Linked DNA regions of Homo sapiens: region 2 is linked to region 1. A link means that fine-mapping ties the variant in region 1 to the expression of a gene that starts in the linked region. Tissue or cell type: whole blood. Region 1 holds a variant in brackets; the other region holds the start of a gene. All regions are shown on one strand. Distances are between the middles of the regions.

Region 1 (2,760 bases):
CTTCAAAGTCCACATTTAGTTTTAGTATGACAAAACCATCTGAGAAGGAATCTGAACAGCCAGCAAAAGCCACTTTTGCCTTTGGAGCTCAAACTAGTACTACAGCTGGTAAGTATTAACTTTTTATTATTATTATTATTATTTTTTTTTTTACAAGTTGTCGTTTTACAAGTTGCCTTGACAGATGCAGCAAGTCAATTAATGGTTTACACTGAACATAGTTGAGAAATACAGAACTCTTTGGGAAGGAACCTAGGATTTTCAGTTTGAACTGCTCTTTAAAACCCTCATGATTCTGGTGAAGTCATCTGTGGATCTAATTTTGAGAAATACAGCAGTAATGCAAAGCTCAATATAGTGCATATTTATGTGTGTCTTTCTCTTCTGTTTGGGCTTTTATAATCAGAATTGGTATCTACTACCTGGAAAATAAGGATTCTTAGCTTATGAAGTATTTTCTACCATAATCTATGGGAAGGCCTTTATTTACAAATAGTTACAGATAACCAGTCCTCATCAAACATTAAGAAACATAGACAACAAATATAATTAATCCTGAGAAAACAAGAGATTTTGAAAGCTGAAGTCCTGGGGAAAAAAATGACATAGCACCTTAAAGGTTAAAAGCATGATTGTTGGTGGATCCTATTAAAGTCATTCTGTGAGCTGAATAGCAGGAAGAACTTCATAGCTGATAATCAGATTAGTGAACTAGAATTTCCCCAAACTTAGTGCACCAGTACAAAGAGTGATCCAAGTTAGATCCACAAGTTCCTTTGGGATAGGAGTGGCCTAGAAGATAAGAAGTTTTGGGGAAATATCAAAGAAGTGACAGAAGAAAATTTTCTAGATCTAAAGAAAGACATTGGTCTTAAAAATGGAAATTACCTATTGGCAAAGATCACTGAAATTTAGGACACCAAAGCTAAAACCCCAAATGCTTTCAGAGAGAAAAGCTATTTGCCACAAATAGGCAGGTATCAGATTAGCATCATCTTCTAATTTGTAACATCACATGCTAAAAACAACAGTGCCCTTAAAGTGAAAATGTTCTTGAACCTAGAATTCTGTTACTAGCCAAATGTGTTTAAATATAAAGACAATCCGGGTGCCGTAGCTCACACCTATAATCCCAACTAGTCGGGAGGCTGAAGCACAAGAATCTCTTGAACCTGGGAGGCGGAGGTGGCAGTGAGCAGAGATTGGCCCAGTGCACTCCAGCTTGGGCAACAGAACAAGGCTCTGTCTCAAGAAAACCCAACAACAACAAAAAAACACCAACACAAAGGCAAAATACAGATGTTTTTAGATGTGCAAAAAATGCAAAAGTTGAATATCCATGAATACTTTTGAATAATAAATTGGAAACACTCAAAATTAACCTTTAAAAAGTATGGAATTCA[A/G]CAAATAGCTATGAGCAGTTTTTTGTCTGTTATATATTTACTTAGAAATATAAAGACAAAATCAAAACTAAAATTACATATTATTTGGAAAGCAACAAAAACATGATAGGGTCTAATCAGATTTGATGATGAAAACACCAGGCTATGGTAGACACTCTTAACCATTCTTCCATTAGCCAGGTTGAAAGTAAGCCAACATGTTCCATTTTCTGTAAGTCATACTAATGCCCATAGTGTACTGTGACCAGCCCTGGATAGTGTGCGGTATTGGAACTGAGAGATTATTGGAATAGTTTAGAAAAAAATCTTCAATAAGGTGGCTGGATTCAGAATCACCATATAAAAATCAAAAGTTTTTCTTCAAATCAGCATGTCTCATTTGTTTTTCCTAACATTTCTAACTTGTATTTTATAAAAGCAGCAGAACTTGTAACATGCCAAATAACTAAAAGAACACAAAAGGCATACTTGTTGCTGGGTGAAGGTATTCCCTTCCTCCTCCCATAATTTTAGTTCTTAGGGGAATTTTTGTAGAGCTTGACAAGCTAAACTTATTCTAAAATTCACATGGAAAGGAAACCACACAAGAAATTTTGGGAAGAAGGGCAGGCACACAGGCAGCTTTGTCCTACTAATATCAGTCCATGGTATAAAGTTATAATAATTAAAACAGTCTAGTGATAACAGTAGAGGAAACAAGTATATGCATTTTAGGAAATGTAGTGTGTGATAAAGACAGCATTGCAAATTAGTGCACAAAGGCTGTACTAGTTGATGCTGTGGAGAAACTTGGCTATCCATTTAGATAAATTGAAGTTATGATTTTGCCACATACTGTAATATAAATTGCAAAATAAAACATATAAAAGTACAGCTGTCTTCCACTATCTAAGCTTGCTATTCAACTACAGTATCCAGTTAGATTTGGATTCGAGGTGTATTTTTATTAACCTGAATGCCAAAGGCCTTCCTATGAAAGGCCTAAAATCCATAAGCTATAAAAGAAGATGAATGTATTTGACTTTGTCAAAATCTAATATAAACAGATGTCCATTTGATGAAGTAATCTATATAAAAAATCTATTTTCTAGCGAATTCTAGGGTAGGAAAATTCTAGCAATTGTAGGGTAGGAAAAAGTACTTTCTGAGACTATTCTTAAGGATTTATGTTTGTTTCTTAATTTCTGTCTTACAGATCAAGGTGCAGCAAAGCCAGTTTTTAGTTTCTTGAACAACAGTTCCTCTAGTTCAAGTACACCAGCCACTTCTGCTGGTGGTGGCATATTTGGTAGTTCCACCTCTTCCTCCAATCCACCTGTGGCTACCTTTGTGTTTGGACAGTCCAGCAATCCTGTGA
Region 2 (2,760 bases), 27 kb after region 1:
TCTTGTCCCATCTATCTGTGGCTAACTAAAATAAACTAAAAGTCTAATAGTTTAAATAGTAAACTAAGAAGTGTAACTAATTCAAAATATTCTAGTTCACACACAGAAGCAAAAACAATTACACAATATACAAGATATTGATCAAATGAAGTGAAGCTTTGACCCAATCAAAACTTCCTAACTCCACTTGTATCCATGTCGATCTCCTTTTATATCCGTTCAGTTCCACTGTCCTAAGTAGCCAATGTCTGAATAATTTTCAGCATTACCAGTCGAGCCCCTCCAAAAGTGGGTTTGCCATTTGCGAATTTAGCTTTGGCCCTCACTGCAGAGCGTGAAAACCAAAGGAAGAGGATGGTTTGAAGAGCAATTTCTTTTCACGAATAAACAACTAGTCCCATGAGTAAGGGAGTCAATTTGGAGTGCCAGGTCTAAAGGAAGAAGAAACTGTATTGCCTCCTTGTACATTTTGGGAATTTAGGGCCTGGACAAACGATAGCTAGTGAACTGAACGGGCAGGATAGTCAATCAGAGTAGAAGCAGCAGTTACAGGTCTAAAAAGCGTGCCAGCTCTACCCCACAGGCCCCCGAAAACCCTTCTACTCCGCCCAGCCTCCACCTCGCGCTTCTCACCTGCCTGTCGCCCGGTCTCGCTCGGGCTTCGCGAAGGGGCTGCGGATCCTACCCTCGTCACTGGAGTGGCCCGGACCGACGCCTGCACGTGAGGAGCCCGGGGTCCCAGGCCCGCGACTGGAGCAGGGGTGCTGATGCCGGCAGCTGTCCGCGGGTCAGGCCCCGCGGCCCCGGGGCTCAGGAAGTAGAAGGGGTTGTAATAGCCCAGCTGCGGGGGCGGCGGCGCCGCGGCCTGGGGGACTGCAGCGCCGCCCGAAGGGAAGCTCTGCGGGGAGGGCTGGGGGCTGCAGTAGGCTGGGAAGGCGGCCAGGCCGCTGTGCCAGGTGAGGTAGCCGCAGTAGGACTGCCACAGCCACTCGTGCACTTGCCGGGAGTACTCGCGGGCGCTCAGCCGAGCTGGTCTCTCTCGTGGCGCCGCGGCTTCGGGCGCCTCGCAGCCCGCCTGCTCCTGCAGCTCTGCACCGGAGCCGGAGGCCGCCTCCCCGCGCTTCCTGAGCTCGCGCGGCGGCTCCAATTTGTCGGCTGCGGCGGCAGCCGCGAGGCCCGGGGCTGTGGGCCGGCCCGGGGCCTGGGGTTCGGCCTGGGGGTCGTCGCGGGGGCATGGGACGGCGGTGGTAGGAGGGCCTCTCAGGGAAGGGACGGGCTCGTGGTCCCCTCCGCCATCGTCCTGCCCGGGAGGGTGGCCTCGGGCTTCCTCGGGCCCCTCGGCCATCGTCGCCTCAGCAGCACCCTCTGGGATACCTGTCACTGCTCCGTTTCCCTCCCCCAATGGCCCCTCCCCAACAGCCCCGTCACCACCGCAGCAACCGCAGGCGTCAACAATCCCCCGCCGGAAGCGGAAGCCCCGCCCCTCAGGAGCAACGCCCGCCGCCAGGCGGAGCTGGGAAGGGAGGGCGGGGAGGTGCGTCTGCAGTCCCGGGTTCGGGCCCTAGTAGTCGGTGGCTGGTCGGTGACTGGGACCAGACCGTCGCCTCCTCCCTTTTACAGCTTTAAGTCTGTGACCCGAGGCCTCTCTGTATATTCCCGTGGGGTTGGGCCTAGTTGTCCTGGGAGAAACTAGATGGATGAGGAGTATTTCCGAGACAGGTCCCAGGGCCAGCGCAGCCTTTTCTGTTGCAGAACCGCGACTGTTGTTTTGGGATCCAGGCCGGAGGGTTTGTTGCTTGTGTTCATTCCAGTTAACCATTAGTACTCGAGAAGGTGGTACAGAACGCATCTATCCCCTTAGAAGAAAAGAAATTAAAAGCCAAACTAAACTGGGATATATATTAATATAGGAAACTACCACTGAGACATAGGAAAGTGTATTAAAATATAACTAGTGAGGTGCTATGTATAATTCAGAGGAAGGGGAAATTATGCATGGGCCAGACTACTAACAAAAGGCTCCAAAGCCTGGGATACGCTGAGGGCCTTTCCATAACAGAAAATGAAAAGGAACCTAAATTTGAGACTAGATTTGAGGAAAGGCACAGTTGCGCTGGAGTAGAAAGCGTCTGTCTACCGCAGTGGAAAGTAAGTTTTCGTAAATGCAGACTAGCTCCAGGGTGAGGACAGAATCTAGCTTTTAAATCAGTATAATCTCTCTTCTTTTACATTTGAAAATCTCTGCAGCGATATGTTATTGTATCCCCAGCACCATACAAAGGACATACAAGGGCCAAATACTGTGGGAATATTTATTAATGATATTAATGATGATGCTGTCCGGGCCAAAGGAAAACTTCCGCTTCACCTTCTGAAGTTTCGCTGAAAGTCACTGACAGGAGGCAGTTAATAGGAGAAAAGACATAGACATTGATTTGACCATCGTTTTATGTGACACGGGAGCCTTCAGAATGAAGACCCAAAGATAACAAGGGAAATCGTGTATTTGTATGCTTAGGTTCAACAAAGCATGGACAGCCGTATAAAAAAATGACTGGACAAGGCCGGGCGCGGTGGCTCACGCCTGTAATCTCAGCACTTTGGGAGGCTGAGGCGGGCGGATCACAAGGTCAGGAGATCGAGACCATCCTGGCTAACACAGTGAAACCCCGTCTCTACTAAAAATACTAAAAATTAGCCAGGCGTGGTGGCGGGCGCCTGTAGTCCCAGCTACTCAGGAGGCTGAGGCAGGAGAATGGC

What was found. PIP is the estimated chance that this variant, and not a neighbour inherited with it, causes the effect.
Region 2: it holds the start of FAM8A1, and the variant in region 1 is fine-mapped to the expression of FAM8A1 in whole blood (INTERVAL, PIP 0.98).

What each region holds. Positions count from the first base shown.
Region 1 is chr6:17,626,003-17,628,762 of GRCh38, reverse strand. NUP153 (nucleoporin 153) reads left to right here. Exons shown (of 22, transcript NM_005124.4): 18 at 1-108; 19 at 2,599-2,760. Among named protein-coding and RNA genes, the nearest start is that of FAM8A1, 27 kb to the right of the region's middle. The variant A/G (reference allele first, on the strand shown) is at 1,404.
Region 2 is chr6:17,598,995-17,601,754 of GRCh38, reverse strand. It overlaps FAM8A1 (family with sequence similarity 8 member A1), which reads right to left and starts at 1,453. Exons shown (of 5, transcript NM_016255.3): 1 at 634-1,453. The coding sequence starts at 1,345. RefSeq lists an enhancer at 1-48 and a silencer at 1,115-1,594.